Linked DNA regions of Homo sapiens: all the other regions are reported to be linked to region 1. Evidence: microRNA targets listed by miRTarBase, many of them from high-throughput screens and not tested one by one. Region 1 holds a microRNA gene; each other region holds the end of a gene's coding sequence.

Region 1 (3,151 bases):
CCCCAAATCATTTTCATTAGGATCAATTTTTTCCATTTAAAAATCTGCATGAAGATTTGATTCCTCAATGTGTTCTTGTCTACATCAAATATCACTGTTTATCACCGCCGCCACCGTGAATTTCCTTCCATGGCTGCCACGTCGGCAGCTTGCTATTTCCCCAGGTCAAATGTCACAGCTGAAATGTTGTCAAGAAAATTGGATTCCTCTGCCAATTTGTAGTCAACTGAACACATTTAGCACTGTGCCGTTTCAGCTGTTTTTAGTTTTATTTTGTGTTGATTATTTTTATCAGTATTATTTAATACAAATGGGATGAGATACTGATAGCCTCTATTTGTTTCATAACCCAGGAGAAAATTGGGAACAATGTTTGGTTGGGGGATAGAAAGAGAAAGATAGAGACAAGGAAAGGTGCAGAAAGAAGCACAGTGCTTGTGAGCTAGACGGGGGTCTGGGGCTGCAGACTCGTCACAGACCCTGCCAAGTGTGAGCTCTTTGTGTATCCGCGAGGTCAAATACCTTCCGAAAAAAAAATGGTGGAGTCAAAATGTCTTTGGGATCAACACAGCCAAAATGGTGATGTAAAGAGACAGGGTCCAGGGTAAGAGCTAAAGCCGACGCGACACCAACGCCATCCTCCCCGGGCCGCGAGCCCCGCCCCCATCATGAATGAAGCTTGTGTTCTCTGAGCGACATCTGTTCTCATCCACCGCAGAGGACCGCAGAGGGCAGACCACCCACGTCTACCCCGTCCATTCTTGCTCACGGGAGGGGTGTAGATGCCCCTGAGCTTGCCACTGGGTCCCGGAAGCCATCCCAAGCAGGATTTGATACTCAAACAAAAGTTGCCTTTGTGTGATTCAACATAAATAAAGCGAATTCACCAAGGGCAACCTCTGCTCAAGGGTCAAACATCAGCACGGGCAAGAACACACCGAGATGCCTCTTCACCAAAGGCGGCATTGCCTGCGGGACCTCCCTGCTGACTCCAGCTGCAGGCTCGCTGGCTTGCTGGCTCGCTCTCTCCCCTCTTGCTCTCTCTCTCTCTCTACCTCCGAGAAGCCCCCCAGGCAGTGGTCAGAACATGGTTGGTCATGGACCAGCTTCTGTAGCCCTGGAGCAGGCAGTGGGGGCGAGGCTATGCACACACACATCACAGGTCAGCCCGAGCTAGAGTCAGCCCCTGGTCACCTACCCTAGAGGGGCTGGAACACCAAGGTCCACCTCCAGAGCCGGTATCTCCTCTGGAAGTCTCTGAAGCAGGATTTCACACAGAGAAGGGGGCTGCCAATGAACCATGTGACCGTGTTCAGTCCAGCCTACAGGGGTTTGAGGGAGGACCCGACCTGAAGGCTGGCGACTCCTCGTCCAGCGCAGCATCCTCAGAGGGTGGGTGGGGCTGCGTCACAGGGACAGCACAGGCTCAGGTGACTGTACTCCATGCACTCCATTCCAGGAGGCCTCAAAGAGAGTTCAACCAAGAAAACAGGTCACGCTGCCTATTCATTCATTCAGCATCACACCTACTGTGCACATCTGGCGACACAGCACCAGGCAAAACAGACAAGGACTCTGCCCTCAGGGAGCTTCCATTCTAGTGGCGAGAGGACAATGAGTGCAGATGACATAACATTCATATAATGACCATCCTCAGAAACAATGCTTATCCTACAGCCACGTGCCAGACGCTGTCTAGACACTTCACAAAGAGCACGTTTCCACTCCGCTGTTAACCCTGCTTTACAGAGGAAGAGACTGAGGCCCAGAGAGCTGATAGGTGAAGGGATTTTCCAAGGGCACACAGCTGGCAACATAAGGTAGTAATAAATGCTATTAACAATTCTCGTCTTGCAGTAGGAATAACCGAGTCGTGCCATGGAAATGTGTCTTTAAACAACATTAATTCTCACTGCTGAGGAAACCCCCTTCACCCCTTGCTTCCCAGAGGTCACCCAGAAGATAAGGTATTTGAGGGCGTAATGTGGATGTCTTCCATTCAGCCAGGAGTTCCTTTCCCTAAAGTGTGCCACACAGCCAAGATGATTTCACACCTAAAAAGGTTGACTAAATGTGGTTTATTCACTGACGAGTCTTCAAGGATGCGACTAGAAGACCACCATGTCAACTAAAACGTCAGCATCATTTCGGGGAATTCCTCCTAATGATGGCCGGGATATGAGCCAAGTGATGTAAGTCACACAGAGAGCACCTGTCATGCGGAGGTGATCCACTTCCTTACCCTGCGCAGGTGCCGGCTGGGCTTTCCCCTCGTGACGTTTCCCAAGAAGAATTGAGTACCGAAAGGAGATTGGCCATGTAATACTCATCATAAATAAAATGAACACACCATGGACAACCTCCATTCGAGTACCTGACTTGGGTGCTCGCTTCCAGCGCGTCCCAGCAGCAGGCCTGAGGACGGACGGGATACTGAGAGTCAGGAAGGTGGCAACACACCACCCACGAAATAAGCTCTGCGGTCCGGGCCGCACTCCATCCCTTACTTGCAATTAGCACCTCTTGCAGGAAGCCATTCAGGGAGGGAAGTGCCACAGCAGAGAGGTCTGCAGAGCACCATCTGTGATACATGAAGAGAGGGCAGCAGGGAAGACAGCAAGACGGTGTCTTGTCAAACATGCAGTGAGCCGATGAGGGAACTGCCGCCTCTTTCGAGGAAACTGCCATGGTAAGCAAGCAGGACGCCTGCAGGTGCACGACCCACCAAGAAGAGTGTGCACACTGTCAGCTTCGCCGTGCGTTCAGGCATTCAGACACCAGTTCTAGTTCCTAAACTCGGCACCACCCGAGGGTGCTTTAAGGCTAGATTTAATGCTTTCAAAAGAGTCCACTATGTAGGATTGGTCAAAAAATAAATCGAATGCATCATGGAAGACCTCTCCACCAGTACCACAGAGTAGCTCTGATAGGAAAAGCTCCACTTCTTCCCCAAAGGTGGCACCATCTCTAGAAACCTCCCCAAGGACGGGGCACACACAGGGTTAGGGCCAGGGCACACTGCTGGGTCGGCTATGGTCAATGGTCCCCTTCCTTACCCTGGAGAGGAGCTGACACCCTGAAGTAAGACTCCGCTCCAGGAAGCCCTCCAAGGCGGGATTTGGTACTGAAAAATAGGTCAACCGTGTATGAT
Region 2 (3,151 bases), not on the chromosome of region 1:
CCAGCGTATATGAGCAAGACACAGTGCTATCATACATCCCCCTGCAGCTTTAAAAAGCAGCAGAAGCAAGCACTTCTAGCCAGACCCTCAAGCACCATCACTTACCTAACTGACAGCCCAAAGCCAGCATTATGTGTAACTCTGGCAGGACTAATCCCCTTCGTTGCTCCACCACTGGTCATGCTGATGACAAAAACTTATATTCCCATATTAGCTTTTACTCAGATGGCTTATGGAGCCAGTTTCCTATCTTTCTTGGGTGGGATCAGATGGGGTTTTGCTCTACCAGAAGGTAGTCCAGCCAAACCAGACTACCTTAATTTAGCTAGCAGTGCAGCTCCTCTTTTCTTTTCATGGTTTGCCTTCCTTATTTCTGAAAGACTTAGTGAAGCCATAGTCACAGTAATAATGGGTATGGGAGTAGCATTCCACCTTGAACTTTTTCTCTTACCACATTATCCCAACTGGTTTAAAGCCCTGAGGATAGTAGTCACTTTATTGGCCACTTTTTCATTTATAATCACTTTAGTAGTTAAAAGTAGTTTTCCAGAAAAAGGACATAAGAGACCTGGTCAAGTATAAAAAATATAAAAGTCTGGGAAGTGAGGAGCACCTCTGCCCAGCTGCTGCCCCGTCTGGGAAGTGAGGAGCGCCTCTGCCTGGCCGCCTGACCATCTGGGAAGTGTGACAAGCGCCTCTGCCCGGCCGCTGTGCAACCTTCCACGTGTGAAGTGACAGCCTTGTGTGTGATCTTTTCTGTCTTCCCCAAGTTTGCATTTTCGACATTAAAGTTTACTTTTTAGTTAAAAGTTTTAAAAATATATATATATAAATACACTGTAGATAACATTTGTATGCCAGCTACACCTTTTTCTACTTCTGTTTGGCTTTTTTTCCCCACACCAATGGTAATTTATCTTCACAGATTGTTCTTCATTTCTAGAAATTGTTACTTCATGGTAATTACTTGAGCAAAAGCTTGAAAATCCCTGACAAGTACTTTTCATCTCATAGTATATTAGTTTTCACTCAGTCATTTTATGAATAATATAGTTATCCACTTAAACATTTCAATATTTTAACCATCTTGAAAATTAAAGATTAAAAATCCCCTTTGTTAGAGTCTTGTGATCATTGAAAAGAATGCACATATTCTCCCACTTCAAGCGGAAAACCTCGTATCTGTGAGTATCTGAAAAGAAAAGGTAGTTCCATTGAGTTTTCACAGGAGTTACCACTGGGAAAGGCATGTCCAAACTTATTTCACATGGTATAACCCAATTATATGAGCTAAAAGGATCTATGGCTCTAAAGTCAGTAGGGAGCAGTGTCATGAGGGAAAGCCACATTCAAAGGTAAGTTGGACATGTTTTCCAGTTTTTATTAGGATATTTGGCATGGTACAGATAACAACTTGTCCCTTACCACCAAACACATAATAGCTGGTCAAAATGATTATTTTCAAAGGAAACTATTTAAAATAAAGCCACTAGTACATATAAATTAGGAAAGAAAAGTCAAGCTGGAGCCATCTTGATATTCTAATGAGCAGGCCTATCTAGTTCTACATCTTTTTTTTTGAGATGGAGTTTCATTCTGTCGCCTAGGCTGGAGTGCAGTGGCACGATCTTGGCTCACCGCAACCTCCACCTCCCGAGTTCAAGCGATTCTCCTGCCTCAGCATCTCTAGAGTAGCTGGGATTATAGGCACGTGCCACCATGCCCAACTAATTTTTTGGTGTGTATTTTTAGTAGAGGTGGCATTTCACCATGTTGGACAGGCTGGTCTAGTTCTACATCTTTTAAATCACAGAGAAGCTTTTAGCTTTGGTGTGTTTTTGTTTTTGTTTTGTTTTGTTTAAACGCAGGGTCTCACTCTTGCTCAGGCCAGAGTGTAGTGGTGTGGTCATGGCTCACTGCAGCCTCGACCTCCTGGGCTCAAGCAATTCTCCCACCTCAGCCTCCTGAGTAGCTGGGACTACAGTTGTGCACCACTATGCCAAGCTAATTTTTTAATTTTTTGTAGAGACAGGGTCTCCCTATGTTGCCCAGGCTGGTCTTGAACTGAGCTCAAGCAATCCTCCTGCCTAGGCTCCCAAAGTGTTAGGATTGCAGGCGTGAGCCACTGCACCCAGTGCAGAAGCTTTCTTAAAACAGCAAAAGCAACACCTTAGATTTTCACTTGAAAACGTAGTCTCTAATCACTCTACTTAAGGTGGAGAAAAAAAGAATTAACAGAAAACCTAGTTTTCTGAAATTCCTAGTCTCACCAAAAAGGAAAAACATTAAAAATGGTCTAAGGATTAAAAATGGTCTAAGGATATAGATCAGGATATAGTATAACCTGGAATTTTTTTTTTTTTTAGATGGAGTTTCACTCTTGTTGCCCAGGCTGGAGTGCAATGGCGCTATCTCGGCTCACCGCAACCTCCGCCTCCCGTGTTGAAGCGATTCTCCTGCCTCAGCCTCCCGAGTACCTGGGATTACAGGCATGCGCCACCATGCCCAGCTAATTTTGTATTTTTAGTAGAGACAGGGTTTCTCCATGTTGGTCAGGCTGGTCTCAAACTCCCAACTTCAGGTGACCCACCCACCTTGGCCTCCCAAAATTCTGGGATTACAGACATGAGCCACCGTGCCCGGCCTGTATATTTTTTAGAGATGATGTTTCCACTCAGTCTCAATCTGATTCTACTCAGATTGTTTTGATAAGGAAACTCACTTCTTTGTTATTAAATTGCATGAATGCTATACAAATTTAAGACTTTTCCATAATCTGAATTAAATGAATTATTTTCCAGAATAGAGGCAAATCATATTTTTAGGCTAATTGCCTAATTTTACTTAAAAATGCTATTTTTCCAGGTGAATTACAGTGTATGCTTCTTTAAGAAAACTGATTTTTAAGTACATTTGATTAAGTACATTGGCAGGATACTTAGAAGCATATCGGATTGTTAAACATTTTGGAGGTAGATCACTTTAATCATTTCTCAAAAAACAGAATTAAATGTAAAATGAAATGTGCAAGTCCTTAAAGTTAAAACAAAACCAACTAAAAAACTTGTGCAATCCTACTACAGTTTGGTAACCCAGAATGCCACTGATAAAGTAATACAAAGAAACAAAAAAACTAGATACTTTATTAGTA
Region 3 (3,000 bases), not on the chromosome of region 1:
TTTTTAGTAGAGACAGAGTTTCACCATGTTGTCCAGGCTGATCTTGAACTCCTGACTTCTAGTGATCTGCCCACCTCAGCCTCCCAAAGTGCTGGGATTACAGGCGTGAGCCACCATGCACCCAGCCTCTTATGTAATTAAATGATCACAACAATCCCATGGAAGTCTGCTGTACGATTGCCAGTAAACAGAGGGGGAAGAAGTAAGTGACTTAGTCACCTCCCCTAATTGGCGTGTGCTACAGTCAGCCCAGGAATCCTGGCTGGTCAGATCTTTCAACCTCCTCTCAGCACCACCATAACACGATTGCATTATGTGCATACAAGGCAGAGCTTTCTAAAATTTAGAGCTGGTGGGATGGTGTGGAAATTATGTAGTGGTTTCCTATTCTCAAAGATGTTCGAGCAAATGCTTGATGACTGTTATCAAAAATACTGAATAAGTGGCTCACACCTGTAATCCCAGCACTTTGGGAGGCTGAGGTGGGCAGATCACCTAAGGTCAGGAGTTCAAGACCAGCCGGCCAGCATGGTGGAACCGCATCTCTACTAAAAATACAAAAATTAGCCAGGCATGGTGGCGCCTGTAATCCCAGGTACTTGGGAGGCTGAGGCAGGAGAATCGCTTGAACCTAGGAGGCGGAGGTTGCAGTGAGCCAAGATCACCCCAACCCAGCTTGGGCAACAGAGCAAGACCATGATTGAGGAGAGTGGAAATGGATAATCTATGAAGGCACCTACCAACTTTAATGTTCTGAGTTCTGTACTTTGGGACTGGACATACAGCTATATTAAGTGATTTTTTTTTTGGTCCCCCTGTATTTTCTTTTCTTTTTTTTTTGAAAGGGAGTCTAGCTTTGTCTCCCAGACTGGAGTGCAGTGGCGTGATCTCCGCTCACTGCAATCTCCACCTCCTGGGTTCAAGCGATTTTCCTGCCTCAGCCTCCCTAGTAGCTGGGATTACAGGTGTGCACCATCATGCCCAACTAATTTTTGTATTTTTAGTAGAGACAGGGTTTCACTATGTTGGCCATGCTGGTCTCGAACTTCTGATCTCAAATGATCCACCCGCCTCAGCCTCCAAAAGTGCTGGGATTACACGCATGAGCCACCGCACCCAGCCTCTTTTCTTTTTGAGACATGGCCTTGGTCTGTTGCCCAGGCTGCAGTGCCTTGATGCCGTCACAGCTCACTGTAGTCTCAACCTCCTGGGCTCAAGCGATCCTCCCACATCAGCCTCCTAAGTAGCTGGGACTACAGGCATGCTCCACCCCGCCTGGCTATTTTTTAATTTTTTTATAGAGATGGGGTCTCGCCATGTTTCCCAGGCTAATCTCAAACTCTTGGGCTGAAACAATTGGCCTGCGTTGGTTTCCCAAAGTGCTAGGATTATAGGCATGAACCACCGTGCCTGGCGGTATTATATTTCTTAACACCCAGGTGTGTGAATAGAGACCTCTTTTTTTTTTTTTTGAGATGGAGTCTCGCTCCCATCGCGCAGGCTGGAATGTAGTGGCGCGATCTCGGCTCACTGCAACCTCCACCTCCCAGGTTCAAGCGATTTTCCTTCCTCAGCCTCCCAAGTAGCTGGGATTACAGGCGTGCGCCACCGTGCCCGGCTAATTTTTGTAGTTTTAGTAGAGATGGGGTTTCGTCGTGTTGGCCAGGCTGGTCTTGAATTCCTGACCTCAGGTGATCCACTCGGCCTTCCAAAGTGTTAGGATAACAGGCGTGAGCCCCTGCGCCGGGTCTAGAGACTTCTTCAAAGCTGGGAAGGTACAGGGTGTGCCCTCTGAACAGCAGCAGAGCTTGTTGCAAACCTGAACTTTCTGGTCCTCTGCTGCCCCTTTGTGGACTACCTGGAAACAACAGCCCAATATATCGCTGTAGGAGCATGAAATTGGACTTGGGAGAATAGCACCAGAAGAACTGGTGGAGGTTTGAAGGCTGGTGGAGGATACGAGGGAGTCACGACTGTTCTTTTCTCCAGCAAGGTTGGGGTTCCCAGGAGAGAGGCCTAGAACTCTTTCAAACTGTCAATGACTTCAAGAAACTCTCTTCTTTTTCATGATCTTTATTTATCCTCGAGACGCTTGGATCCAGTAAGCGAGTGACAATTTCAAGACTGCCAGCCATGCACCTCTGTATGTTTTTGGCCCAAGCAGCAGCCGTGGGCCTAGTGCCAACCCTCACACGCTAGCTACCTCCTCCTGTGCTTGGAGTGGAAAGTCTGTGGGGTTCTCTGTCTGGTTCTGCAAGCTTTTCACACCATCTCTTCGCTGTCTGTCTCTATGCTAGGGGTTTCACACAACTCTACACCATTGCATTCATGCTTGCCGTATCCCTGACTTTCTGCACAAGTGCAGGGCAGAGATGGCCCTTTTGTTTTGGTGAGGGAGAGAGGGAAACACTTGGGCACAAAGAGGGGAAGGGACTGTGAATCCCAGGGAGCACCCTGGCCAGATCCCAGCGGTGTTCGAATCCCAGGACCATCTTCCATCTACAGCCTAGCTGCCTCCTTCCCTGGTCAACCCTTCCTGGGTGCCCATCCACCACACTGCCCAACCTCACTCCCCGTCCCCTCCCACAAAGAGTGACAGTGGCCTGGGGCTCGGCCTCTCCTGACCCCAGGGGAGGATGGGTGATCTGGGCCTCCTGCTACCTGCCACCTGGGCCTCCTATCTCCAGCTGGGAGCCAGGGACCTACCCACGGGCCTGGCCTGACCTCTCTCCCCCTCCCCTCATGCTTCCAGACCCTGCCGCAGCCTGCGGTCCAGGGCCAGGAGCTGCCTCAGGAAGCCCCGGTTGGGGATGATGCCTCGGTGGTCTTTGACTTTCTTGATGGCCTCCACGAGGGTAAGGTGGTGGTACAGCATGAGGTAGGCCAGTACCAGGGTGGCGGATCGGCTCACGCCCACAGCACAATGCACCAGGATCTTCCCTGAGAGGAGAGACACAGAGAGAGCTTTGAGACTGCTTGTGGCAGCTTGGAGGAGGCTGG
Region 4 (3,151 bases), not on the chromosome of region 1:
GGGCTGGTCTCAAACTCCTGACCTCAGGTGATCCACCCACCTGGGCCTCCCAAAGTGCTGGGATTACAGGTGTGAGCCACTGCACCCGGCTGACAATGAAGATTTTACAAATACCTTCTAAATTCATTTTGGGAAAGGCTAGTTTCAGCCCTTTCCAAATGTAACTCGTCTCCTCTGGGGAGCCCTCTCAAATTGCTTTAACTTACTCATCTCCCCTTCCTGTCTTGCAGCCTTTGATCATATAGGAACCCATGTGTCATGTTCTGAACCAGTCAGTCTCTAAGGCAGGTGCATAGAGCAGCTGTGTCCAGCTTGCCCTGGAAAGAACAAGTACCATGTGGCAGAAGAATAGGGACGGCCTTGCCAGGCTCTGCGGCCTAGCCCTGGTGGGTTTCCCAGAGATGACTGTGTGAGGAAGGGTGGTATGATTTGGCAGTTTCTCTCAGCTACAGCTCCAAATAGGCTCTAGAAGAGCATCACTCACTGTGGTCACTGTGTCTTCCCCTTACAAAGGGCAGTGAAGGTCTATGGTTCCAACTACAAAAAACAAAAATTAATATCCTATTCCCAGAGTACTATGCAAGCACTTTCAGCGTCATTCTCAGGGCACCATCCAAGCAGACAGGGCCTATTACCAACCCTTACTTATGTAACAGAAGTAACGTCACACTACTTCAGTACCCTGGGCATATCCACCCTCAGCTGGACCTCAGAGCAACTCATCTTGGGCTAGAGTTGGGGACCCAGAGCAAGCAGGTCTTAGTATTTGTGCCTGCACTTGACCTGCCTCTAACCTGGAGGTAATGGCTTGTGTTCCCCTTCTGCCACAAGCAATCCCAACAGCTCAAGCCAACCTTCCAACTAGTCATGTGGGGCCTTTTTGGCAGGCTCCTGGCTACACAATACTCACTCACACCATTGTGCACTGGAATAATTTTTATTTTTTTCCTTGGCAAAAAGTCAAGTGCTACATTTTTAAAAACAGAAAATCTCAAACAATCAAACGCATTACCCATTACAGAAGAGGGTCTAGCAATAGTACAAAACATCCTACTGAAGATTTTTTTTTTAAATATACAAGTCAGTTTAAAATGATAGAAGTTCTGTGAGAACTAAGAAATCTACAGCCTGTAGTTTAATAATAGAAAAAAAATTAAGACAATTAAAAGATCTATAGCATCCAGCATTTTGCTTAATTCCCTGTTTATAGCACCTATTTCTCTAGGTTCGAAGATGAGAATTCCAGAACCTGTGGTATGTGCTGTGTAACAAGTTAGGGTGGACTTGCTGTCTCTCCTCTCCAGTAGCCCCCCACCATTAAAAGGAGAATATATATATAATTTTTTTTCCAATTTCCCTTCTTACACCCAGAGAAGAGGGGGACAACTGGGAGAACAAGTTAAAAAACTGGGGTGCAGGAATAAATATGACTTTTCCTTTCCCCAAAATGGGATGTTGACAGAAAAGCAGAGTATGTGCTTAGAGGAACTGGTGGGTGGGAACAGCTGTTATCTTTGACATGATGTGTAAAAATCAGGGAACAAGTGGACATCACAGTCAGCTGCCTGCAAGTTTAAAAACCTCAGACTAAACAGACAGTTCAAGGGAGGAACAGACAAATTACTAATCACATTGATGCTGTCACATGCACAATGATGCTGACTGCAGGCCAGCCTGTCACCATCTCAGGGCTAAGCCAACAGAGTAGGAGGGGTGGCTTCAACCCCAAGTCCCACTGCAGTAAGAAAATGAATATTCCACACATGAAGCACTCACTACACACAGATAAACCCCCTGCTCACCCCCACCTTCTTAGACTTAACCCAATTTAGAAAATAATAGCAAAACCCACTGGGGAGATTGGAAGAATGGCAGAGAGGATTCTCCTCAAAGCCATGGGGGCTATGGATGTGAATCTTAGCAGACTTGAGACTCCCAGCTCCAGGCCCCTTAAAACCAGATCAGGTCTTGAGGGGAAGGAGAGAGAAGCTAGGATGGGGATTCAAGTCCCATGAAGCCTTTTGTAGCCTCTGGAGCTGCACCTGGATGGTGAGTCTGATGTTTTAGGGGTGTGGCTACTGGCTAAGCAGATGTGAGGGTGGGAAGGGGAAGTGACACCAACTTCCCACACGGGGGACACACAGGTGGGAAGACAGGTAGGGCTGGATCACTTTGCAGTCCTGGCATGGGAGGCCCCAGGAAGCCTACAATCTAACTAAAAAGATTTTCCCAGTGGTAATTTCTTTTCCTTTCTGTTTTTACTTCCTATTATCAGTGTTGTTAGACTTAAAAAACAAGATACAGACTAGTCCCAAAGCTGGACTCTGTGAATAAAGTTGTTTCTTTTATAAATATTTTAATTACAAGTAATCCTCACTCCAGGTAATTTCAGTGACACACAGTACCTACAGGCACACAAGATCACACACACACACGCAGACAAGATCTCTCTCTCACACACACACAGACACACACAGCTCCCAAACTTTCACAGAAAGTCTGAGAGCAACCATGTAATTATAAAGGAGCCCTACCTCTCAAGAGTGAAGTAAGGGTGAGCTATGTCATTTCAGCCTGAAGAAGCCAGAGACAGGAGAATGTGTGTCACTTAAAGAAAAATAGGGATTAGCAACAATGTTTGGTTGAAAAGCCAGAAATAATAAAAGATAGTAAAATTTTGATTACCAAAGGGGAAAACAAAAAGCAAAACAACTTTCAGATTTCTGTACAGAGCTTCTTCCTATTAAGTGCCTAAACTATAGGCAAACTTTGGTGTTCCCACTAAAACACAAGAGCCTCACACAATTAGGAAAAAAAAAATCAAAAGAAACAAGGAAACTGAGAATGGAAGTTAGTGTAAATCTCTGCATTTGGGGAGTTGTCATTAACTCCAGAGCCCAGCATAGTTTCCATGGAGCCCTGAAGGGAGGGGACCTCCTGCCACAAAGAGTTTCGTTCCAGACGAGTCGTAGCAGTGGGTGTAAACAGCATTGGGGAAGAAGTCAATGTCTGAAAAGTAATTCCTCCAGGTTTCATCATGATTCTACGGGAAGAGAAAGAGACTACAATTAGCACCTCTAGCCATGGGGCAGGAAAAGGGGGAGGAAGGGACAGGAATGCTTTCTGGTCTCCTTAAGGGAACAGGGTTCTA

The links. The annotated mature microRNA hsa-miR-377-3p reads AUCACACAAAGGCAACUUUUGU and lies in region 1 at 842-863, opposite strand. An mRNA with a match to its seed (bases 2 to 7 or 8) in the 3' UTR can be bound and repressed. Matches are read on the target gene's strand: a 7mer-m8 pairs with bases 2 to 8, a 7mer-A1 pairs with bases 2 to 7 and ends in A, and an 8mer does both.
Region 2: the mRNA of TMEM69 is a reported target of hsa-miR-377-3p. Seed matches in the 3' UTR shown: 7mer-A1 at 725-731 and 7mer-m8 at 744-750.
Region 3: the mRNA of DUSP26 is a reported target of hsa-miR-377-3p. Seed matches in the 3' UTR shown: 8mer at 2,302-2,309 and 7mer-A1 at 2,262-2,268.
Region 4: the mRNA of DCAF12 is a reported target of hsa-miR-377-3p. Seed matches in the 3' UTR shown: 7mer-m8 at 2,798-2,804, 7mer-m8 at 2,454-2,460 and 7mer-m8 at 2,422-2,428.

What each region holds. Positions count from the first base shown.
Region 1 is chr14:101,059,806-101,062,956 of GRCh38, reverse strand. MIR377 (microRNA 377) reads right to left here and starts at 907; the gene lies at 839-907. MIR496 (microRNA 496) reads right to left here and starts at 2,384; the gene lies at 2,283-2,384. It overlaps MIR154 (microRNA 154), which reads right to left; the gene lies at 3,119-3,151.
Region 2 is chr1:45,693,324-45,696,474 of GRCh38, forward strand. It overlaps TMEM69 (transmembrane protein 69), which reads left to right. Exons shown (of 3, transcript NM_016486.4): 3 at 1-1,113. The coding sequence ends at 582. It also overlaps a transcript of IPP not described here. Among named protein-coding and RNA genes, the nearest start is that of TMEM69, 6.7 kb to the left of the region's middle.
Region 3 is chr8:33,589,273-33,592,272 of GRCh38, forward strand. It overlaps DUSP26 (dual specificity phosphatase 26), which reads right to left. Exons shown (of 4, transcript NM_024025.3): 4 at 2,058-2,940. The coding sequence ends at 2,741. Among named protein-coding and RNA genes, the nearest start is that of DUSP26, 9.2 kb to the right of the region's middle.
Region 4 is chr9:34,085,466-34,088,616 of GRCh38, forward strand. DCAF12 (DDB1 and CUL4 associated factor 12) reads right to left here. Exons shown (of 9, transcript NM_015397.4): 9 at 922-3,043. The coding sequence ends at 2,885. Among named protein-coding and RNA genes, the nearest start is that of UBAP2, 38 kb to the left of the region's middle.